3 linked regions of the Homo sapiens genome follow. The protein of the gene in region 2 purifies or fractionates together with the protein of the main gene of each other region. This does not show direct contact. Each region holds a gene or a part of one and is shown on either strand. Other genes may lie near its edges.

Region 1 (7,103 bases), on a different chromosome or scaffold from region 2:
CCCAGCTACGCATGACGGGGGTGGGACTAGGAGGCCTGGGACTTTTGTCTGTGTTGTTCACAGTGCCTGGCATATGATAGGGGCCTGGTGAATGTTTGTTGAATGAATGAATGCATGCATGGGCGGGTGGGTAGATGGATGGGCAGTTGGATGGATGGGCGGGTGGATGGATGGGTGGGTGGATGAGTGGATGGATGGATGGATGGGTGGTTGGATGGATGGGCGGGTGGATGGATGGGCGGGTGGATGGATGGGTGGGTGGATGAGTGGATGGATGGATGGGTGGGTGGATGGATCGATGGGTGGGTGGATGGATGGATGAGTGGATGGATGGGCGGGTGGATGGATGGGTGGGTGGATGAGTGGATGGATGGATGGACGGGTGGTTGGATGGATGGGCGGGTGGATGGATGGGTGGGTGGATGAGTGGATGGATGGATGGGTGGGTGGATGGATGGATGGGTGGGTGGATGGATGGATGAGTGGATGGATGGGCGGGTGGATGGATGGGTGGGTGGATGAGTGGATGGATGGATGGATAGATGGATGGATGGATGGATAGGTGGGTGGATGGATGGGCAGGTGGATGAGTGGATGGATGGATGGATGAGTGGATGGATGGATGGATGGATGGATGGGTGGGTGGATGGATGGATGGGTGGATGGATGGATGGATGGGTGGGTGGGTGGATGGATGGATGAGTGGATGGATGGGTGGATGGATGGATGGATGATGGGTGGATAGATGGGTGGGTAGGATGTATGTATGGATGGGTGGGTGGGATGTATGGATGGATGGGTGGGTGGATGCATGGATGAATGGGTGGATGCATGGATGGATGGATGGTTGGATGGATGGATAAAAGTATGATTCACAGCTTCCCAACAAGTCATGTCCACTCTGAGCACCCACTCTGGGCAGTATTGGGCTGGGTGTTCACTGATGTGATTTTCATTTCATCTTTGCTGCATATGTGGGAAAAGGTAAAAACTGAGTCCCTTGTCAGCTGCCCCAGGGAGCAGGCCATAGCAGTAACAGGAGTGAGGGTGGGGATGGGGATGGGAGCAGGGGCTGCTATGTCTGTCCTTGTTGCCTCAGGACACAGGCCTGTACTACCACCGGTACCTCCAGGAGGTCATCGATGTACTGGAGACGGATGGGCATTTCCGAGAGAAGCTGCAGGCTGCCAATGCGGAGGACATCAAGGTGCGGCTGGGGGAGTGGGGGCTGTGGGAGGGGTACGTGCTGGGAGGGCAGAGTTCAGGGGAGGACTGGTTTCTTTTTTTTTTTTTTTGAGACGGAGTCTTGCTCTGTCACCCAGGCTGGAGTGCGATGGTGCGATCTCAGCTCACTGCACCTCCACCCCGCAGGTTCAAGCAGTTCTCCTGCCTCAACCTCCCAAGTAGCTGGGATTACAGGCGTACACCACCATGCCTGACTAATTTTTGTATTTTTAGTAGAGACGGGGTTTCACCATGTTGGCCAGGCTGGTCTCGAACTCCTGACCTCGTGATCCTCCCATCTCGGCTTCCCAAAGTGTTGGGATTACAGGCATGAGCCACCATGCCTGACCATACTGGTTTCTTCAAAGGGGCCACATGGCTCCAGCTGTGCCTGTATTTGAAAATCACCAAAGTAAGACTCAGGGAGAAGTTGCTTCTTGGGGTCACAAGCTGGGAAGAGCTTTGGGGAACACAGAATACGTGTTTAGTGCAGAGTCCCGTGGGCAGGCTTTCAGTCGCAGCTCCGCCGCTTACCAGCTATGGGGCCTCCCCTCACCGTGCCTCAGTTTCCCCACCTGTAAAATGGGAGACATCATAGAACCTGCTGCACAGTTCGGATTTGGATTTTCCAAGGGAAGGATTTTGGGGTTTGGATTTTCCAAAGGAAGATGTGTAAAGGGTTTGGAAGAGCATGGTGACACTCCTTAGCAAGTGTTGTGGGAGGGCTGCGTCAACAGAATGCTCCTATGGTGCCTTCTACAGAGGAAGAATTCAAAATAAGGGAGGTGCTGGTGTCCCTTACATCACCATGAACTCCCATATCAGGCCTCTAGGAGCACCATCATTGTCCCCATTTCACTGAGTAGGACACTGAACCCTCGTATCAGGATCTGTCCTTCTCATGGACCTGGGTCTCACCACCATGCACGGCTAATTTTGTATTGTTTCTAGAGACAGGGACTTGCCATGTTGCCCAGGCTGATCTTGAGATCCTCCCACCTCAGCCTCCCAAAGTGCTGGGATTACAGGCGTGACCCACCGCACCTGGCCCCTAAACATGTGGCTTGATGAATGACAGGAGATGGGGCAGCACAGGTGGGCAGGGCCTTGAATGCCAGGCTGACGGGCTGGGAGCTGTCCTTCCTGGAGACTCTGAGGAGCTGGGGGACTATAAGCAGGGAAGGGGCAGTATAAGACTGGGGCATGAGAAAGCTTATAAGAAGCTTCCAGAGAAGACAGAGAGCAGGCCCCCAGGCTGACCAGGGTCTCCTCTCCTGTCAGAGCGGGAAGCTGAGCCGAGAGCTGGACTTTGTCAGCCACCACGTCCGCACCAAGCTGGATGAGCTCAAGCGACAGGAGGTGTCACGGCTGCGGATGCTGCTCAAGGCCAAGATGGACGCCGAGCAGGATCCCAGTGAGCAGGGGCAGGGCGGGAGGGACAGGCAGGGAGGGGTGGGGAAGGGTGGCCTCACTCCCGGCCTCCAGGTGGTTGTGTGCTAGGCAGGTGAGGCCTCCCTCCCCGCTGCGAAATGTGCTGAAATGTGCGTGGGAGATTGCCCCAGTGTTCCTCCCAGCATGATTTAATATTAACATTACAATGTTGTTTGTTTATATTCTGTTTCCATTTGTTGTTTTTAAAAATCTTTATCATGGGCTGGGCACAGTGGCCCACGGCTGTAATCCCAGTACTTTGGGAGGCTGAGGCAAGCAGGTCACCTGAGGTCGGGAATTGGAGACTATCTGGCCAACATGGTGAAACCCCATATCTGCTAAAAATACTAAATTAGCCGGGCATGGTGGTGCACGCCTGTAATCCTAGCTGCTCAGGAGGCTAAGGCAGGAGAATTGGTTGAACCCGGGAGGCGGAGGTTGTAGTGAGCCGAGATCGCACCATTGCACTCCAGCCTGGACAACAGAGTGAAACTCTGACTCAAAAAAAAAAAAAAAAAATTGTCATTTAAAATTCTGGTAGAGGCCGGGTGCAGTGGCTCACGCCTGCAATTCCAACACTTTTTGAGGCAGGAGAATCACTCGAGCCCAGAAGTTCAAAACCAGCCTGGGCAACATAGCAAGACCCCTGTCTCTATAAAAAATATTAAAAAATAAGCTGGGCATGGTAATGCATGCCTGTGGTCCCACCTCCTTAGGAAGCTGAGGTGGGAGGATCGTTGAGCCTGGGATGTCAAGGCTATAGTGAGCCATGACTGCGCCACTGTACTCCAGCCTGGGCGACAGAACAAGATCCCATCTCAAAAAAAAAAAGTTGAAAGAACTTCAAACTTTTAGAAAAGTTGTAAGAGTAGTACAGAAAACTCCCAAACACCCCTGACCTGGCTTCTCTAGTTAACATTTGCTCCATTTGCTTTGTCACTCACGTTTGGGACTTCACCACAGTCACCATCTCATCACCCTTACACATTTCAGTGTGATACTCTTGCATAAGTACAGCGATAAAATCGGGAGATTTATCAGGTCACACTGTTTTTCCTTGCTCAGCTAATATCTTTCTTTTTTTTTTTTTGAGACAGAGTCTCGCTCTGTCACCCAGGCTGGAGTGCAGTGGTGCAATCTCGGCTCACTGCAAGCTCCGCCTCCTGGATTCACGCCATTCTTGTGCCTCAGCCTCCCAAGTAGCTGGGACTACAGGCGCCCGCCACCATGCCCAGCTAATTTTTTGTATTTTTAGTAGAGACGGAATTTCACTGTATTAGCCAGGATGGTCTTGATCTCTAACCTCGTGATCCGCCCACCTCGGCCTCCCAAAGTGCTGGGATTACAGGTGTGAGCCACCGCGCCTGGCCTTTTTTTTTTTTTTTTTTGGTGAGACAGAATCTTGCTCTGTCTCCCAGGCTGCACTACAGTGGCGCGATCTCGGCTCACTGCAACCTCCGCCTCCTGGGTTCAAGCAATTCTCCTGCCTCAGCCTCCCAAGTAGCTGGGATTACAGGTGTGTGCCACCACACCTGGCTAATTTTGTATTTTTAGTAGATACTTGATTTTGCCATGTTGGCCAGGCTGGTCTTGAACTCCTGACTTCAAGTGATCCTCCTGTCTCGGCCTTCCAAAGTGCTGGGATTACAGGCCTGAGCCACCAGCCTTGGCCCCCATCTTAAGGTCTTTAATGTAATCCCATCCGCCAGGACCCCTTAGCCCGGAAAGGTCACGCATTCACAGGTTCCGGGGATCAGGATGTGGATATCTTTTAGGGCACCAGTATCCAGCTGCCACAACACCCAGGCTCTTCCCGTCCCTCCTCTGCCCAGAGCCTGCCCCCGGCACCCCAGTGCCCTCAGGCCCGCATTCATGTTCCTCTTGTCTGCTCGGAGCCTGGGTGGACCTTGGCCACACCCGCCCAACCCTGCCCTTCCCGTATGCACCCTGACCTTCTTGCGTCAGCATTTTTAGAAATTGCTGGCGTGCAGCCTTGGGACCTTTGTCCGTTCGCCCCGCTCTCCCGTGACATTCTTTCTCAGGGCTCTTTGCCTGGTCCATGGACCTTCCATCTCCCCTGGAATGTCACCTCCTCAGGGTGTCACCGCCCCGGCTGTCCTGTGTGAAGGAGCCTCTGTGTTATTTGTGTCCTTGGTATTCCTTTGTTCATCCCTTGGTCGCCTGTTCTCTGTCTCTCTAGACTGGGTGCTCCAAGAGGCAGAACTCTTTTGGTTGTTGTTGTTTTTGAGACAGAGTCTCACTCTGTCGCCCAGGCTGGAGTGCAGTGGCGCGATCTCGGCTCACTGCAACCTCTGCCTCCCAGGTTCAAGCGATTCTCCTGCCTCAGCCTCCTGAGTATCTGGGATTACAGGTGCCCGCCACCATACCTGGCTAATTTTGTATCTTTAGTAGAGACAGGGTTTCACCATGTTGGCCAGGCTGGTCTCAAACTCCTGACCTCAGGTGATCCACCCGCCTCAGCCTCCCAAATTGCTGAGATTACAGGCATGAGCCACCCCGCCTGGCCTCCAAGAGTCAGAATTCTGTCATCATTTGATTCCTGCTGTGTCCATAGCGGCCGGCGCTGGGTCAGCCTGGAATAGCGGCTCAACACACGTCCCTGGCACAAATAATGAATTTGAGATTCAGTTTGTACCTGTGTCCTGCACACCTGTCACTCCTCTGGGCTCAGCCAGGGCCGGAGCTGCCTCCACTGCAGCCTAGGTCTCCCAAATTCTAGCTGCCCGTGTGTGTGTGTGTGTGTGTGTGTGTGTGTGTGTGTGTGTGTGTGTGTGTCTTTCTGCCCACTTGACCAAGGGGTGTGTGTGTGTGTGTGTGTGTGTGTGTGTGTGTGTGTGTGTCTTTCTCCCCACCTAACCAAGGGCCACTGGAGGCCAGGGCCAGGCTGATTCATTTTGGGTCCAGCATTGCACAGCGCAGGCCTGGGCCCCTAGAAGCCTCGGGAGACATGCGTGCGGTAAGTGTGTGTTGGCAGCGTGTGCGCTGTCCTTTCCTGCCTGGAAACCCTACCCCTTCCTGACTACTTGGAAACTCCCATATGAGGGAGGCTGCACTTGTTTGCTGAGGCCGCTGTAACCAAGTACCACTGACCAGGTGCTTCAGCAACAGAACTTGACTGTCTCATGGCCTGCAGTCAGAGTCCAAAGTGAAAGTATTGGCAGGGTTGGTTCCTTCTGGGGCTATGAGGGAGGATCTGTACCAGGCCCCTCTCCTTGGCTTGCAGATGGCCGTCTTCTCACTGCATTTTCACACCATCTTTCCTCTCTGTGTGCCTGGCCCAAATTTCTCCTTCCATTATTATTTTTTATTAATTATTATTATTATTATTTTTTTTTTTTTCCAAGACAGAGTTTTGCTCTCGTTGCCCAGGCTGGAGTGCGGTGGCGCGATCTCAGCTCACTGCAACCTCTGCCTCCCAGGTTCAAGCGATTCTCCTGCCTCAGACTCCTAAGTAGCTGGGATTACAAGCACGCGCCACCACGCCTGGATAATTTTGTATTTTTAGTACAGATGGAGTTTTGCCATGTTGGGCAGGCTGGTTTCGAATTCCTGACCTCAGGTGATCCACCCGCCTTGGCCTCCCAAAGTGCTAGGATTACAGGTGTGAGCCACCGCGCCCGGCCTATTATTATTTTGAGACAGGGTTTCACTTCTATCCTCCAGGCTAGAGTGCAGTGGTGCGATCTCGGCTCACTGCATCCTCCCCCTCCCACGCTCAAGTGATTCTCCTGCCTTAGCCTCCTGAGCAGCTGGGACTACAGGCACACACCACTGCACACAGCTAATTTTTATATTTTTTGTAGAGATGGGGTTTCACCATGTTGCCCACGCTGGTCTCGAATGCCTGAGCCCAAGTGATCCTCCCACCTCAGTCTCCCAAAGTGCTGGGATTACAGGCATGAGCCACTGTGCCCAGTCATAAATTTCTGCCTTTTATAAGGTCACCAATCATGTTGGATTAGGGCCCACAGTAATGACCTCATCTTAACCTGATTCCCTCTGTAAAGACCTAGTCTCCAAATCAGGTCACATTCTGAGGTACTGGGGCTTAGGACTTCAACATAGAAACTTAGGAGCGTGCAATTTAACCCCTAAGATTGGTTGATGCTTTATCAAAAATTTTGATGTTTTTCTTTTGTTTGTATGTATGTATTTATTTTATTTATTTATTTTTCAGACGGAGTCTCACTCTGTCACCAGGCTGGTGCAGTGGCGTGATCTCGGCTCACTGCAACCTCCGCCTCCCAGGTTCCAGTGATTCCCCTGCCTCAGCCTCCCAAGTAGCTGGGGCTACAGGTGCGCACCACCATGCCCAGCTAATTTTTTATGTTTTTATTAGAGATGGGGTTTCACCATGTTGGCCAGGATGGTCTCAATCTCTTGATCTTGTGATCCGCCCCCCTTGGCCTCCCAAAGTGCTGGGATTA
Region 2 (7,974 bases):
CTCCGACTCAACAAGACGCATTAGTTAAAAGATCTAATATATGCGTATGGGGCTTCCCAGAATAAGAGGAAGGAAGGAAGGAAAGAATGAGACATCATAAGATAGTGTTAAAAAAAAAAGAATTCCCAGCCGGGCACGCTGGCTCACGCCTGTAATCTCAGCACTTTGGAAGGCCATGGCGGGTGGATCACCTGAAGTCAGGAGTTCAAGACCAGCCTGACCAACATGGTGAAACCTTGTCTCTACTAAAATACAAAAGTTAGCTGGGCATGGGTGGTGGGCACCCGTAATCTCAGCTACTCCAGAGGCTGAGGCAGGAGAATCGCTTGAACCCAAGAGGCAGAGGTTGCAGCGAGCTGAGATCGAGCCGTTGCACTCCAGCCTGGGCAACAAGAGCAAAACTGCATCTCAAAACAAACAAACAAACAAATAAAATAAAAGAATTCCCAAACTGATTAAAGATACCAACCCACAGACTCAAGAAGCCTAGTAGGACTTCTGCTGCTGGCCACGATGCTGCAACTTGTCAATGTAAAATAAACAACAGAGAGACTGGCTCTCCCAAATAAAGTTTACTGGGGGATGGCAGGGGATTGCAATCTGGGATATGCATGCTGAGGGGGACCGTAGGTGTATCTTTCTTTTAGGGGTGGGAAGAGGAAGTCTACACAGATTGTTTTGGAATAAACCTCCCTGGGTACAGGAGCTTATTGCAGGGTTGGTGATTACTCATGGGTAACATGATTGTTGCGGGGGAGATGTCTTCATAGGAGCAGCTGATCTGGAATGTTGTGTGCTGTCGGAGTCCCTGTAACAGTTCTCATCATAGGCACCCGAGCATGAGGGACCTTCCGTTGAGGCCTCCCAGCTCCGTTTTGCTTGGGTCCTGACATAAGTGACTCTGCCTTAGTATTGACAATTTTCACACAGTGGAGCCAGTTTCCCCCATTTGTGCCCCCTCCCCCAGTTCATATGCTGAAACCGAATCCCTAATGTGATGACATTATGAGGTGGGGCTTCGGCATGTGCTTAGGTGGGTAGTGAGGGTGGAGCCCTCGGGAATGGGTTAGTGCTTTTATTTATGTATTTTATTTTATTTTGAGACGAAGTCTCACTCTGTCGCCTAGGCTGGGAGGCAGTGGCATGATCTTGGCTCATTGCAACCTCTGCCTCCCAAGTTCAAGTGATTCTCCTGCCTCAGCCTCCCGGGTAGCTGGGATTACAGGCATGCTCCACCACGTCCAGCTAATTTTTGTATCTTTAGTAGAGATAAGGTTTCACCATGTTAGCCAGGCTGGTCTCGAACTCCTGACTACAGGTGATCCGCCCACCTCGGCCTCCCAAAGTGCTGGGATTACAGACGTGAGCCAAAACACCCGGCCAAAGTTAGTGCCTTTAAAAAGGAGGCCCCCCAGAGCCCCCTCATGCCTTCCACCCTGTGAGGACACAGCATGAAGAAGTGATCTAGGAACCAGGAAGGGGTCCTCGCCAGACCTTGAATATGCCGGCGCTTTGATCTTGGACCTCCAGCCTCCAGAAATGTGAGAAATCAATTTCTGTTCTTTAGAAGCCACCCCATCTATGACTAAGACACCCTCCCACCTTCATGCTACTGAGTGGACAAGCTTACATGAAATGACTGTTTTCACATATGTGGCACCAGGCAGCCCAGGGATGCCGGTGAAATCTCTGGGTAAGTCTCTTTGGCCTCTGGTACTGGCAGCTTCTCCTGTTAAGAGGGCAGTCCTCCACGAGTGTCTCGTGCCCCCCACCTCTCACAGGGTGTGCCAGGAATGCAGGCCCTGAGTACCCTCCCCCATTTCTCAGGGTGGTTTGCCCTGAGAGTCCTCTAGGGACAAAGAGCAGCTTGCTCACTGCTTGCTGCAGAAACAGCTGACTCCCCCAGTGCAGGGCTCCTCAGTGGCCACGCAAACCTACTGACTGTGCAGTGCCCACCCAGGCCTACCCACATGGCACCCGTGGAATTTGGGGGCAAGGGGATAAGACCAAACACACAGGTGAGCACCTGCCTGCCACGCCATGAATGAAAAAGTCCTTTGTCTCTGACCCCGGAGTTTCACGTCTTCTGTCAGCATCCCTGCTGCGGTAACGGGCCAGCTCTTCCTTTGTAAGGAAAGCTAAAACCCAGTCCCAGAGCTGGCACCACCTGGAGGAGGAAGTGCTCTTCCCTGCCCCTCCTTGGCCATGTGACTTGCTCTGGCCAGTGACATGGGAGTGCAAGCGACACATCCCAGCTGTGCATGGCCGCTGGGAGAGTGTGGCATGGTTTCTCCATCTCTCCTCCATGTCCTCCCTTGTCAGGAGAACGGCATGTTCCAGAGAGCCACAGCTTGCTCAGCCTGGACCCCAGAACGAAGGAGGCATCAGAAGCTGAGCCACCCGTGGCCGACAAGAAACCTGAGTGGGAGGGGAAACTTGGTTGCTGTGATCGACCCAGGCTTGCGAGTTGTTTTGGCAACACAGCCTAGCAAGAGCCGACCAATATGTCATTGATGAAAGAAAGTCAACAGGCGTGTAGAAGGAGCTGTCTACTGAGCATGTCTGCACTTTTCTGAATTATGTTGCACTTGAGTAAAAAGTAAGCAAGCCTGTCTATTTACTTTAAATGATGTGTGCCAGATATGTACAGTATGCAGAGTTAAGAAGGTGCCACCCCAAAATAGGCTGCTCTGGCATAGTCACTATTAGGAATTAAAGGCAGTTAAAACAATAACAGGTGCAAAAAGATCATTCTGATCTCTCTTGTGTTTCTTAAAAGCAGAAGATGAAATTCCCAGGTGAAAGATGCTCTCCCTACACTAGAAAGCTCTGATCCTCAAGGATGAGAAGCTGAGACCCAGCAAATGCTGTACAGTCCCTGATAAAATGCCTCTCACCTTTTCAGCCCCCCACATCATCTAGCTGCTTCCTCAAACCTCACTGTTCTCTGTCCAACTCAGCACACGACTGAGTCTGCTTCACTGGGTCTTCACTTCCTTAGGAGGGCTCCTGAGCCACATCCAACTTTAATCAAATACACTGGCATGATGATCTGTCTTATCTTGATTTAACTCTTGGGCCCAGCCAGGACCTCAAAAGGATGGAGGTGGAGTTTTTCAGCCCCTACATATGCAAACACACACATAGCATGTATCTGAGCGGCCACATGGGCTGGCCCTGCTATTTTCTTATGGCTTCTCAGCCTCCCAGCCACCTTCTGCTCTGCATCACTGGAGCTGGGAGGCTGCAAGCTCCTTTCCCACTCTCCTCTGCCCGTTGGCTTCCAGTGAGGCTCCTGCAGCGATGGCGTTGGTGGGAGATGCCAGGCGAGGAATTGATCTCGCATTCTCGTTTCTGGGAACGTCTCTGAAAATGGCTGAATCCCGTCTGGGATCCCAGCTCCCAAGGAGGCGGCAGCTTGCTCACTGCTTGCACAGCCCCAGACGGCAGAGGGGCCCTCTCCTGCACAGCCTGAGACAGTGGAGGGGCCCCCTCCTGCACAGCCCCAGAAGATAGAGGGGCCCCCTCCTGCACAGCCCGAGACAGTAGAGGGGCCCCCTCCTGCACAGCCTGAGACGGTGGGGGGGGGCCCTTCCTGCCCAGCCCCAGATGGTAGAGGGGCCCCCTCCTGCACAACTCCAGAGGGTAGAGGGCCCCTCCTGCACAGCCCGAGACGGTAGAGGGGTAGCCCTGGTCTCTGGGGGCTGCACTCCTGGGCTCTGGAGCTGCCACAGCTCCTCCCTCCTAGTGCTTCCCCTTCCTTGTTTTGCTTTTTGCCCTTTCTGACATAGTGACGACTTCCGTTTCGCAGTCTGGACCTTCACCACCCCAGGGCGAGGGCACAGGCGAAGCAGCAGCACCCCCCCGGGGCCTCTCTTTATTTGGAATACAGTGTGGGGGCTCCCCCTTCCTTCTCCAGCCCGCCCAGGCCCCTGGAGCTGTCCTGGGGCCTGGGGAGTGAGGACCCGTGCCAGCAGCACAGACTCTGCCAGGCCGGGCCCGCTCAGGTGGGAGCCCAGGCCGGGTGAAGCTGTGACCCGGCCCTCACCCCAACTCGGTGACAAAAGCTATCACAGGGCTGCAGTGGGGGAGGAACAGGACGCATCTGCCAGGCACCTGACCCGCAGTGCACTTCTGGGAGCTGTGCTTATCTCCCCGGGGTCTATTTCGCCCCAAGGTTTGGCGGGTTAAAAGCTGATATGCAACCGGCACGACATGAACAGTATTTCATGATTAAAGACATCGCGTCCATGTATAATTGAGATGCTGCCGCATTTGCGGGGATTTTCAAGCGAAAACCAGGCCACGTGGAAAGGCTAAGCCCTCGCACCCCCCCGCCCCCCACTGCTGGGACCCCCGCCCCGCGGGAGACCCCGGCCCGCGGTCCCCTATGCCCGCGACCCCTGCGCTCACCCTCTCCCCTCAACCCTGAGTCCAGCCCAGTCTCGCGCGAGGCCGCAGGGAGACCCCCGCCGCTCCCTGGACCACCCCTGGGCCCACCGTACCCAGCCGCTCCCCGGCGCCCCCCGGGACGACCCCGAGCCGGCTGCCCGCCTCCCGCCGCATTCCGCACAGGCGCACCGCGCACCGAGGGCCGCACCGCCCAGCTCCGCCTGCTGCGCCAATGGCCGACGGGGTCCAAGTCGGCGGCCCAACGGAGAGGCGGGGCTAGGGGCGGGACCAGGACGCGGGACAGCAACTGTCCCGCAAGGCCCGGATTGAGGAGGCGGGAGGGACCGAAGCAGGCGGACCCAGGATTTGGCGCCGCGATCTCGAGGCTTGGCCTGGAGTAGGAGGGGAAACAAGGCGGGACTAGGGGCGAATCCGAGGGGGCGGAGCAGGGCTCGGGGTGCGGTCGGGGGCGTGGCCGGGGCGCGCTGCGGCCATCTTGGGGGCGGGCCCGGGGCGGAGACGAGCCCGAAGGGGCGGGGCCTCGGCGGCAGCAAGAAAGGCGGGACCGGGGCATCTCGGGGCGGGGCTTGGGGCTGGATCTATGAGCCGGGAGCGGGGATCCAGGAGCGAGGAGCCGGGAGCGGGGAACAGGGAGTCGGGGAGCCGGGAACCAGGGCTGGCAGCGGCCGCCATGAGCACGGTGGACCTTGCTCGCGTGGGCGCGTGCATCCTGAAGCATGCGGTGACCGGGGAGGTGAGGCCGGGTGGACGCAGGGCGGTGGGCGCGTCCCTGGCTCCTTGCCCGGGCGTCCTGGCAGCGATGGGGTGGTGGGGGCCGCGGGGCCTGGGCGGGGCTGGGGGCAACGGGGCGCGCCCATGACCCAGCCGCCCGGCAGGCCGTGGAGCTGCGGAGCCTGTGGCGGGAGCACGCGTGCGTGGTGGCCGGGCTGCGGCGCTTCGGGTGCGTGGTGTGCCGCTGGATCGCCCAGGACCTCAGCAGCCTTGCTGGGCTCCTGGACCAACACGGCGTGCGCCTGGTGGGCGTAGGGCCCGAGGCCCTGGGTCTGCAGGAGTTCCTGGACGGCGACTACTTCGCGGGAGGTGCGTCCTGTTCCCCGCCGCGGCGGCGCACATACCCTTCCCTAAGCTCAGGGCGTTCGGGGCCCTTTCCTGCCCAACCCCGGCCCTTCTGTCTGCTGGAGCGGCCTTGATATGCCCACGGGTCAGCGTCCCTCATCTCTCCCTGCCTCCCCGCCCCGCAGCTGGTGGCTGGGTGGTGCCCTGCACAGACCTGGGCCCAGCAGCAGAGTCTGGACGAGCTCTGCCCCGCCGGCTCCACCTGTTGCCTCTGGGACTCAGCCCCTCTTCTGAGGGGAGGGGGGACACTCAGCCCCGTTTTACCCCTCCCTGCCCTGCGGGGGTGGGCTGAGCACGGAGGGTGGGCAGAGGAACAGAGGGTCGGAAGGAGGAGGGCGATTCTTTGTGGTGAGTGGGTTGGGGGCTGGTTCTGCGCCTGGGGCACACACATGTGGCTTCCGCTTTCCAGAGCTCTACCTGGATGAGAGCAAGCAGCTTTACAAGGAGCTAGGCTTCAAGCGGTGAGTGGGGGCGGGAACCCTTGGGTAGCGTGGGGTGGGGGGCCCAGGGGTTCCCACCGCTCCCTGCCACCTCCTCTCCCTGCTGCCCTCTGTGGTGCTGTCCACTCGGGCCTTCCTGGGCAAGGCGGCTCTGGTGGCACTGTTGACCAGCCCTTCTGCCAGGCCTTCTCTTGGGTGCTGGGTGACTGTAATGAGCCACCTCGTCCGGGGCTTACTCTCGGTGTCCAGACCACCTCGTGGGGTGGAGCCTCGTGGCCCATCAGGGGCCATCCTAGCTTTCTGGTGTCTGTGCCACAGGCTGCTTCCTTTGCTTGGCAGTTGCCAGCTGAGCCAGATCCCTGGGCACACCCAGCCTGGGGCCCCATCCATGCTCCCTGCACCCTCTGTGGACCCTCGGCTAGCAGCCACTGGGCTCGGTGTCCAACCTGCCGGTGGGCTGGGCTGGCTACTGATCTGGTCGCCTGTGCCATCTCTGAGCCCTGGTGAGGCGGGTGGGTGGGGTGGGGCCTGACCTAGGAACTGGTCTCATGGACACTGGAGCAGGCTCTGGACCCAGGCTTCTCCGGAGTTTGGCCAAGCGACCTGGTGTCTTCGCAGGTACAACAGCCTGAGCATCCTCCCAGCAGCTCTGGGGAAGCCCGTGCGTGATGTGGCTGCCAAGGTGTGTGCGGGTCAAGGGTGTACAGGCCGGGGGGTGGTGGGAGCTCCCAGGAGCCTTTCTTCTAGGATTGACTCAGGCTGTACCCACTCCTGACAGGCCAAGGCTGTTGGCATCCAGGGGAACTTGTCTGGGGACCTGCTGCAGAGCGGAGGGCTGCTGGTGGTCAGCAAAGGTGGGTCGAGGGAGGGGCCTCGGCCACTGCCTCAAGGAGGGCCTTGCTGAACTTGGTGGCCCAGCCCAGGCCCTCTCTCTGGCTTGTCAGTCTCATCACAGCCCCTCCGCCGCAATGTGGCCTGGTTCTGCGTGTCTGCTGGGCTGAGTGGGGCTGTGGCAGAACAGCTCACTCATCTGGGTAGCCGGGTGGGGGATATGGCTGGCCAGGGCTGCCCTACCCTCCCTCCTCCTGGTATGTGGCTGTGAGGTGCAGGCGGCCTCCGGGGTGCCGTGACTGCCTGCCCGCTGCTACAGGTGGTGATAAAGTGCTCCTGCATTTCGTCCAGAAGTCCCCAGGCGACTACGTCCCCAAGGAGCACATCCTGCAGGTCCTGGGCATCTCTGCGGAGGTCTGTGCCAGCGACCCGCCTCAGGTGAGCTGGGCCTTGGGGGCGCTGCCTGCCAGCCCACGCCCTGCCCCTAGGTCCCCTGGGAGGAGCACTCGGCTTGGCTGGGAGCTGAGCCACAGCGCTGTGGGCATCATGCCAATTGTGCCCTGGGATATGGATGCCACTGTGACCCCACTTGCAGAGTGGGGCAGGCTGAGAGGGGCCGAAGGGCAGCATGGCTGGATGGACAGGCACCTTGGGACTGTCCTCAGAGGTGGGGGCGACACATGGGGTGGCGGGCAGAGAGGCGTGTCCTCTCAGCCTTGGGAGGGCTGGGGATTGTCCAAGGGGGCCCTCCAGGCATTTGTCTGATCCAGTGTCCAGCGGCCCCATGGGACCCTGCTGTCCCCACAGTGTGACAGAGAGGTGTGAGGGAGGCGAAGGCCCTGGCCTCCGAGGATCTGGGTGGCGTCTGCTGCCCTAGGTGTGCTGGAAGTCCACTTGGAAGAACTGTTCCGGAGGCGCTGGGTCGGGATGCCGAACCTCTCCTGATCCGCCGGCAGCAACGAGCCATTAAAACTGCAGTTCCTGACCACGCACTGCTTCGCAGGCTCCGAGCCCTGCATCCTCCACAGCCCCCGCCTTGCTCACTGTTGGGCCCTCAGGGCGGGCAGGGTGGCTGTGAGTCCCAGGTGTCATCTTCCTGCTCTGCGACTTTCTCTGGAGACCTTGGGCCTTTGGCCTGTGGGGCACTGGGGATGGTAACCTCACTGCCCCGTCA
Region 3 (7,103 bases), on a different chromosome or scaffold from region 2:
GTGTATTATTTTATAATAAAGTATTGGTTATCTCACATAATTTATTGAATACTGTACTAAAAGCAAAAAAACAGAATGGTATGTGTACTCAAAGTAAGTTTCTACTAAACTCATATTGTTTTCAAACATCATACAGTCAAAAACTCCTAAGTAGGACCATCGTAAGTTGGAGTGCAGCTGTATTAGAAAACTAGATCAAGAGGAAGAGGAGGGAGATGTAAAAAAAAAAAAAAAAAAGAAAGAAAAGAAAAATGAAAACTAGATCAATATATTTCATGAACAGTGAAACAAAAATTCTTAAAATATTAGCAAACTGAATATAGCAAGATAAAAAAATGGATTATTCACAATGACCAAGTAGGATTTAGCTTAGGAAAATAAGGTTGATTTAACATCCAAAAATAAATTGATATAATTCATTCATTAATAATGTAATAAAGTACAAAACCACATAATCATGTCAAGAGATTCAAAAAAAGCAATTGACAAAATCCAACATCCATTCATGACAAAAACTCTCAACAAACCAGGAATAGGAGTATCAGATCTTAGACTGAAAAAGTATCTCAGAATAACTGGAAGGTAGTGCTTTGAGATCAGTAACAATGTTTCAACCAACTTTAAAAAGTACTCCTTCCTATCATAAAGTTAAAAATAATATTAAAAGAAAACCAAACACTGCATGTTCTCTTATAAGTGGGAGCTGAACAATGAGAACACATGGGCACATGCAGGGAGCAGCACATACTAGGGTCTGTCGGAAGGGGCGGGAGGAGGAAGAGCATCAGGAAGAATAGCTAATGGATGCTGGGCTTAATACCTAGGTGATGGGTTGATTTGTACAGCAAACCACCATGGCTTACATTTACCTATATAACACACCTACCTGCACATGTACCCTGGAACTTAAAAGCTGAAAAAAAAAAATTCAATTATCTTAAAATGTCAAAAAACTTATGGAAGTAGATGACTTTTTAAAATTGTTCCTATTCTTTAAAACTTGTCAGAGAGACTGCAATTCACGAAATTCATTATCTAGATCCTTACACGGCTTTCGAAAGGTATCAAGGATACCAAAGAAAACACTTCGGTATTTATTCCATGGCCCTATATATCTCTCTACCTTTTGCATTCATACAGCCTAGTAGAAAACCTGGTAACCCCGCAACACTTAGTAGAGAACAGAATGGCTAGGCTATAGCAAAAGCGCTCTATCTCACACTCTCTTATTCTAAATATCTCCATATGTTCCCTATCTCTTTACCTGCCAGCCACATTCAATCTCCTTCCATCAATTATCCCTCAATATCACACTCTCAAGCCACAGCTGCCTAGCAGATACCAGAGACAGGTGACAGGGTCTTCATATAAACATACTCGTCCGCTCAAAAGGCCTTGGCCCCTCCAGGCATGCCCAATCCATGCCTTTATTCACAAGGGCACCCAACCAAGAGACTGTGACCCACCAGGAAATCATAAGGTCATGTTATTTAAACCTACCATCCCAGCTCTTCAATTTCCTTCCTTAACTCCCACTGTGAACTTTATTTTCACCATTTTTCTATGTGGGAAGGGGAACCTCCATTCTCACTCCATGCCAAGTAATCCCAAGACCTCATGAAAATGAAAATTAGCAGCTCTCCCTCCCCTAAATTTTAAAACCATTTCTACCTCAGAGAAGTACTGCCACAATGGGAGGCACTGCACTTGTAAACTTAGAAAATAATGACTAGTCTTAATTGGGCAAGGCAAACAGCACTGCATTTACTCATTTATGTGCTGTCTATGGCTGCTTTAGTACTAAAATGGCAGAGTTTAAGAATCCTCTCCGGTCAGGTGAAGTGGCTCATGCCTGTAATCCCAGGACTTTGGGAGGCCAAGGTGGGAGGATTGCTAGAGGCCAGGAGTTTGAGACCAGCCAGGACAACAGAGTGAGACATCATCTCTACAAAAAATTTAAAAATTAGCTAGGCATGGTAGCACATGCCTGTAGTACTAGCTACTTGGGAAGCTGAGGCAGGAGGATCACTTGAGCCCAGGAGGTCAAAGCTGCAGTCAGCCGTGATTGCATCACTGCACCCCAGCCTAAGCGACAACGTGGGCAAAAAAAAAAAACCAGAGAGAGACCTCAAAAAAAAAAAATCATTTCCTACCTAAGGTCACAGAGATATTTTGTATTTCTTAATAAACGTCTTAGTATTTTGTCACATTTAAGTATATAATCGAATTATAATTGATTTTGGGGTATGGTAAGAGGTAGGGATCTAATTTCTTATTAGAAACTATATGGCCACAAAGCCAAAAAATATTTACTGATTGGCGCTTCACAGAAAATGTTTGCTACCTCTAATCTTGACAATCAGAAGGAAGAAGTCATTAATGATGCTACTGGGGGGCTACTGCAAACTATATGCTAGAAGTTTCAAACAACAATAAACAATAATAACTTGCCCAGCAAAGTACCCCAAAATAAAGAGTCAGTTTGCACCTCAGTTCCAATGAATGTAGGACGAATATACAGACTAGCAGATGTTGAATATGGGACCCATTCTTGATCCAATTTCACAAGCTGTTGAATACACTCTAAGAGCTCTTCTTTGTCAAATACCTGAAAGAATGAAAAACATAATAAATGACAGAATTTTCTCACAATGTGGCAATAATAAATGATCCTCACTGAAGCATTTAAACTGTTAAAAAATTAATAATCCCAACACAAAAAAATAAGAAATGTTTGAGGTGATGGATATCCTAATTATCCTAATTTTTATTTATTTCTTTCTTATTTGTCCTAATCATTACACATTATATGCATGCATGAAAACATCAGTGTACCTCATAAATATGTATAATTTATGGTACCAATAAAAAAAATTTTAAAGTAATAATAAAACCAAACAATTTTTTCTGATTTTCCCCCCAAAAATTGTGATGGGATGACGAGCTATCCACATGTGAAAGATAAGATTAGATCCCTACATCTTACCATACCCCCCAATCAATTCTAATTAGATGATATACTTAAATGTGACAAAATACTAAGACTTTATTTAAAAAGTACAAAATATCTCTGTGACCTTAAGGTAGGAAAGGATTCTTAAGTAGGAGATGTAAAACACAAATCATGAAGGAAAAAAATGGATAAAATGTGACTATTTGAAACTTAAAGACTTCCGTTCTTCAAAAGATGTAAAGCAACAAACTGGGTGAAGTTATTGGTAGCATGATCAACAAAGAATTTTAACTGGTATATATATTTGGATATCCCCAAAGTCAATGAAGAGATAGATAACCCAATAGGAAAATGGGCAAAAGCAAAGAGCACTTTATTTCTAAAGAAAAAAAAATTACATCTACTAGATGGGTGATACTTCATAAAATAATTTAGTCTCTGCTCACTTGCAAAGTAGAGAAACATACTTTCAGAGATGTGATGGGTCACCTAAGGTAGAAATGAGTCAGTCATAAGCATCTGAGTAAAGCTCATGAAGTCAGAATTTGTCTATTTAAATATTGACCTGTAACAGCAATAATAATGTAGTAATGTTATAGAAATTGGGACTGCCAATCATATAGGTGAACCCTGTAGCACCTGCCTCAGCCCCTGGTATTGCTGTCTAGAGACAGAATTCAGTGAGAAGAGAACTTGACCAGGAATAAAAACACCTGGATCTAATTTCTTGCCCTGTCCTTTTGCTCTTTGTGACTTCAGACAAGTCATTTAATCTCTCTGGACTCAAGTTTTCTTCTCTGTACAAAGGCACTAATAAACTGTACAACAAATAATCTTCTTAGCAACGCCTTACTGCTGTGATTACACAGATAAGGAATGTGAAACTACATAACACAGTTTGGTAGCAAAATTGATGTCTAACAAATATTACTTCCCTTTCCTTCCAGCCCCATTTTAAAGACTTTTCCCCAGTGATCTAGCTGTAATGAGAAGAAGAGCGAAACTATGCCCTAGTCCAAAGAATTTACCTTAATTTCCCCTCTGCTACTATATTATGGCCTCCAAAGGAGATGGGTGAAATGCGGGTTACAAAAATAGGCAGAGGAATGAAGAACACTTGGATTTAGCCGTCCTCAGGCTTCCTGAATGCATAGGTTGGGCTAAATCCCTGAAGCTGGGCACGGTGGCTCATGCCTGTAATCCCAGAACTTTGGGAGGCTGAGGCAGGCAGATCACTTGAGGCCAGAAGTTCAAGTCCAGCCTGGCTAACATGGTGAAATCATGTCTCCACTAAAAATAATTTTTAAAAAAATTAAGCTGGGCATGGCTGCGTGCACTTGTAATCCCAGATACTAAGGAGGCTGAGGCACAAGAATCACTTGAACCCCGGAGGTGGAGGTTGTAGTGAGCCAAGATTGTGCCACTGCACTATAGCTTGGGTGACAGAGTGAGACTCTCTCTCAAAAAAAAAATCTAACCCATCTTACAATGATTTCTGCTCCATAAGAAACATTGTGACAGCCACGATTCAATGGCCATGAGAAACCATTTTGATATCTTTTTATCTCAAAACATTACTTAAGATAAAATATCAAAATAATTAAGTTACTATATCTTGCTAGCATCTAAAGCAATTAGGCAAAATATCCGCAAAATACCTGTGCTGCACACCATATTTTCCATTTTCAATATTAATTTCATGTGGTCTTCAAATATTATTTTAGGTTGAGATACATTTTTCTTCCTTACTCTTTCATCTCTCACTTGCATATGAATCCCCCACAGACACTGATTTTAAAAAATTGTGGAATTGCCAAATGATATTATTTTCTTGGGTTTTTTGTTTTTTGTTTTTTTTTTTTACAGAGTCTCACTTTGCGGCTTAGGCTGGAGGGCAGTGATGTGATTATCTTGGCTCACTGCAGCCTCCACCTGCCAGGTTCAAGCAATTCTCATGCCTCAGCCACACCGATGGGACCACAGGCATGTGCCACCAAACCCGGCTAATTTTTGTATTTTTTGCAGAGATGGTGTTTCACCATGTTGGCCAGGCTTGTCTCCAATTCCTGGTTTCAAGTGATCCACCCACCTCAGTCTCCCAGAGTGCTGGGATTATAGGAGTGAACCACCGTGCCCGGCCATTTTCTTGTATTTTTACCTAACTAAAGTAGATCAGAAATAATGTTAATGTTCATATGGTTTGTACTGAATATTTATCTAACTATTCAGAAATTATTTATTTGGTGGTCAACACCGTGACCCGTTACATTAAAAGAAACACAAAAGAAACTCCTACACTTACATACCGGCAGAGTTGCCCTCACAGCAGAGCGATACATTCTATCCATGTTGAGGTTTGGCTGAAACAGTCGAATTTTATTATCTACTCCTCGAAATGCCTTCAATCCTTCAAATAACTGGAGATCAAAGAGAAAAAATCTTAGAGGGTAACCAAAAGAAAACAACCCGTGTTCAAGAGACTGACTTTCCTATGGGCGTTCATCTTATTCATCCCATAAAGCTGTTGACATTGACCTCAACTTGAGATCATTAAATCCAGGAAAGCTAACAGTTGACAGGACTGGTAAAAACAATGGTTGAGGTGGAGGAAAGTTATTTTATTATCAGAATTTGGTAGGAATTCCGAGTTCTCCTCTGCTTAGCAGGAGCCACACTGCTGAATAACACATTTAGGTGTTATTTAAGGGAGCAGGAAGAAAACATCTAGAATCACACAGCACAGGTTAATTCCCTAGGCAATGGAGATCGAAACCAAAGGCCTTGTGGCACCGTGGCCCCCAAAGAGTACCCCCATATCCTTTCATGTAATCTGGTTCATTTGAATGCTGGATAGTAGATAATCCAGATGTGACCAGAGCTGGTTCAGTCCCTAAATCACAGAAACCAGGCAGCTCAAGACCATACTATGTTAAGCCACGTCACCTCCCTCAATCAAAGTGCTGTCCTGAACAAACCACTGATCAGGGATTTGAAAAGACTTCAGTAGATACATACTGATAAATACAGAGAAAGACAAAAATCAATAATTTTAGTGGGAAAATTTAACACAGCTTCTCTAAGTAATTTATAGAACAAACAGGCTAAACCTTAGTAAAGATATGCAAGATATGAACAACAGGAAGAACAAACTTCCCTAACTGATACAGAGAACTCTTACACAGACCAGCTGTAGAATTCACATATTTTCCAAACACAAGATAAGCCAGAAATCAATACCAAAAGTTTGACTGGACACCATCCATATTTTGGAAAATAAATCCACCACTAACTAAACCATAGGTCACAGAAGAAAAATGGAAATTAGAAAATAAGTTAAACTGAACGATAATGAAAAGTAAGGCCTTTAAAGATGTATACCCTAAAAACTTACATGGGAAAAAAAGAAATACAAATCATGTATAATTAAAAAGCATAAAATTAGATGTTGTATTTAAGTGCAAATATATTATTAGTTTATTAAATATAACAGTACTAAAGCTTCGGTTAAAATATAAGTTTGTTAGATTGGACTCAGCTGACAATATCTGAATCAAAAAGACAGAAAAAGATATATCATGCAAATACTTTATTTTTTATTATTTATTTTTTTTTTTTGAGACAGAGTTGTTTTTCTCTGTCACCCAGGCTGAATGAAGTTCAGTGGCAAGATCTTGGCTCACTGCAACCTCTACCCCCTGGGTTCAAGCAATCCTCCCACCTCAGCCTCCAGAGTAGCTGGGACTACAGGCGCGCACCACCACGCCCAAGTTAATTTTTTGTATTTTTTGTAGAGACGAGGTTTTGCCATGTTGCCTAGGCTGGTCTCGAACTCCTGGGCTCAAGTGATGTGCCTGCCTCGGCCTCCCAAAGTGCTGGGATTACAGGCATGAGCCACTGCACCTGGCCTGCAAATACTTTCTAAAATAAAACTGGCAAGCTTCCATTACTATTTATAAAACAAAAGAATTTAAGCCAAGAAGCACTACTGAAGATAAAAAAGGCAACTTCAAGGCTGGGTGTGATGGCTCACGTCTGTAATCCCAACACGTTGGGAGGCCAAGGCTGTTGGATCACTTGAGGTCAGGAGTTCGAGACCAGCCTGGACAACATGGTGAAACCCATCTCTACCAAAAATATAAAAATGAGCCAG

What was found.
Region 1: the proteins of PRXL2B (region 2) and NUCB1 purify together in Homo sapiens (affinity purification with mass spectrometry; 3 studies listed by BioGRID and IntAct, with this or other methods). This does not show direct contact.
Region 3: the proteins of PRXL2B (region 2) and BCAT1 purify together in Homo sapiens (affinity purification with mass spectrometry; 2 studies listed by BioGRID and IntAct, with this or other methods). This does not show direct contact.

What each region holds. Positions count from the first base shown.
Region 1 is NC_000019.10:48,903,248-48,910,350, forward strand, and holds part of NUCB1 (nucleobindin-1 precursor), read left to right. Parts: intron 1-1,099; coding exon 1,100-1,207; intron 1,208-2,505; coding exon 2,506-2,638; intron 2,639-7,103. UniProt on the Homo sapiens protein: Major calcium-binding protein of the Golgi which may have a role in calcium homeostasis. Acts as a non-receptor guanine nucleotide exchange factor which binds to and activates alpha subunits of guanine nucleotide-binding proteins (G proteins).
Region 2 is NC_000001.11:2,581,803-2,589,776, forward strand, and holds the start of PRXL2B (prostamide/prostaglandin F synthase), read left to right. Parts: upstream 1-4,974; 5' UTR 4,975-4,993; coding exon of another isoform or gene 4,994-5,083; coding exon 5,084-5,146; intron 5,147-5,288; coding exon 5,289-5,493; intron 5,494-5,938; coding exon 5,939-5,990; intron 5,991-6,533; coding exon of another isoform or gene 6,534-6,587; coding exon 6,588-6,651; intron 6,652-6,727; coding exon of another isoform or gene 6,728-6,747; coding exon 6,748-6,823; intron 6,824-7,119; coding exon 7,120-7,238; intron 7,239-7,607; coding exon 7,608-7,625; coding exon of another isoform or gene 7,626-7,677; 3' UTR 7,678-7,974. UniProt on the Homo sapiens protein: Catalyzes the reduction of prostaglandin-ethanolamide H(2) (prostamide H(2)) to prostamide F(2alpha) with NADPH as proton donor. Also able to reduce prostaglandin H(2) to prostaglandin F(2alpha).
Region 3 is NC_000012.12:24,876,042-24,883,144, forward strand, and holds part of BCAT1 (branched-chain-amino-acid aminotransferase, cytosolic), read right to left. Parts: intron 5,371-7,103; coding exon 5,260-5,370; intron 2,609-5,259; coding exon 2,489-2,608; intron 914-2,488; coding exon of another isoform or gene 887-913; intron 1-886.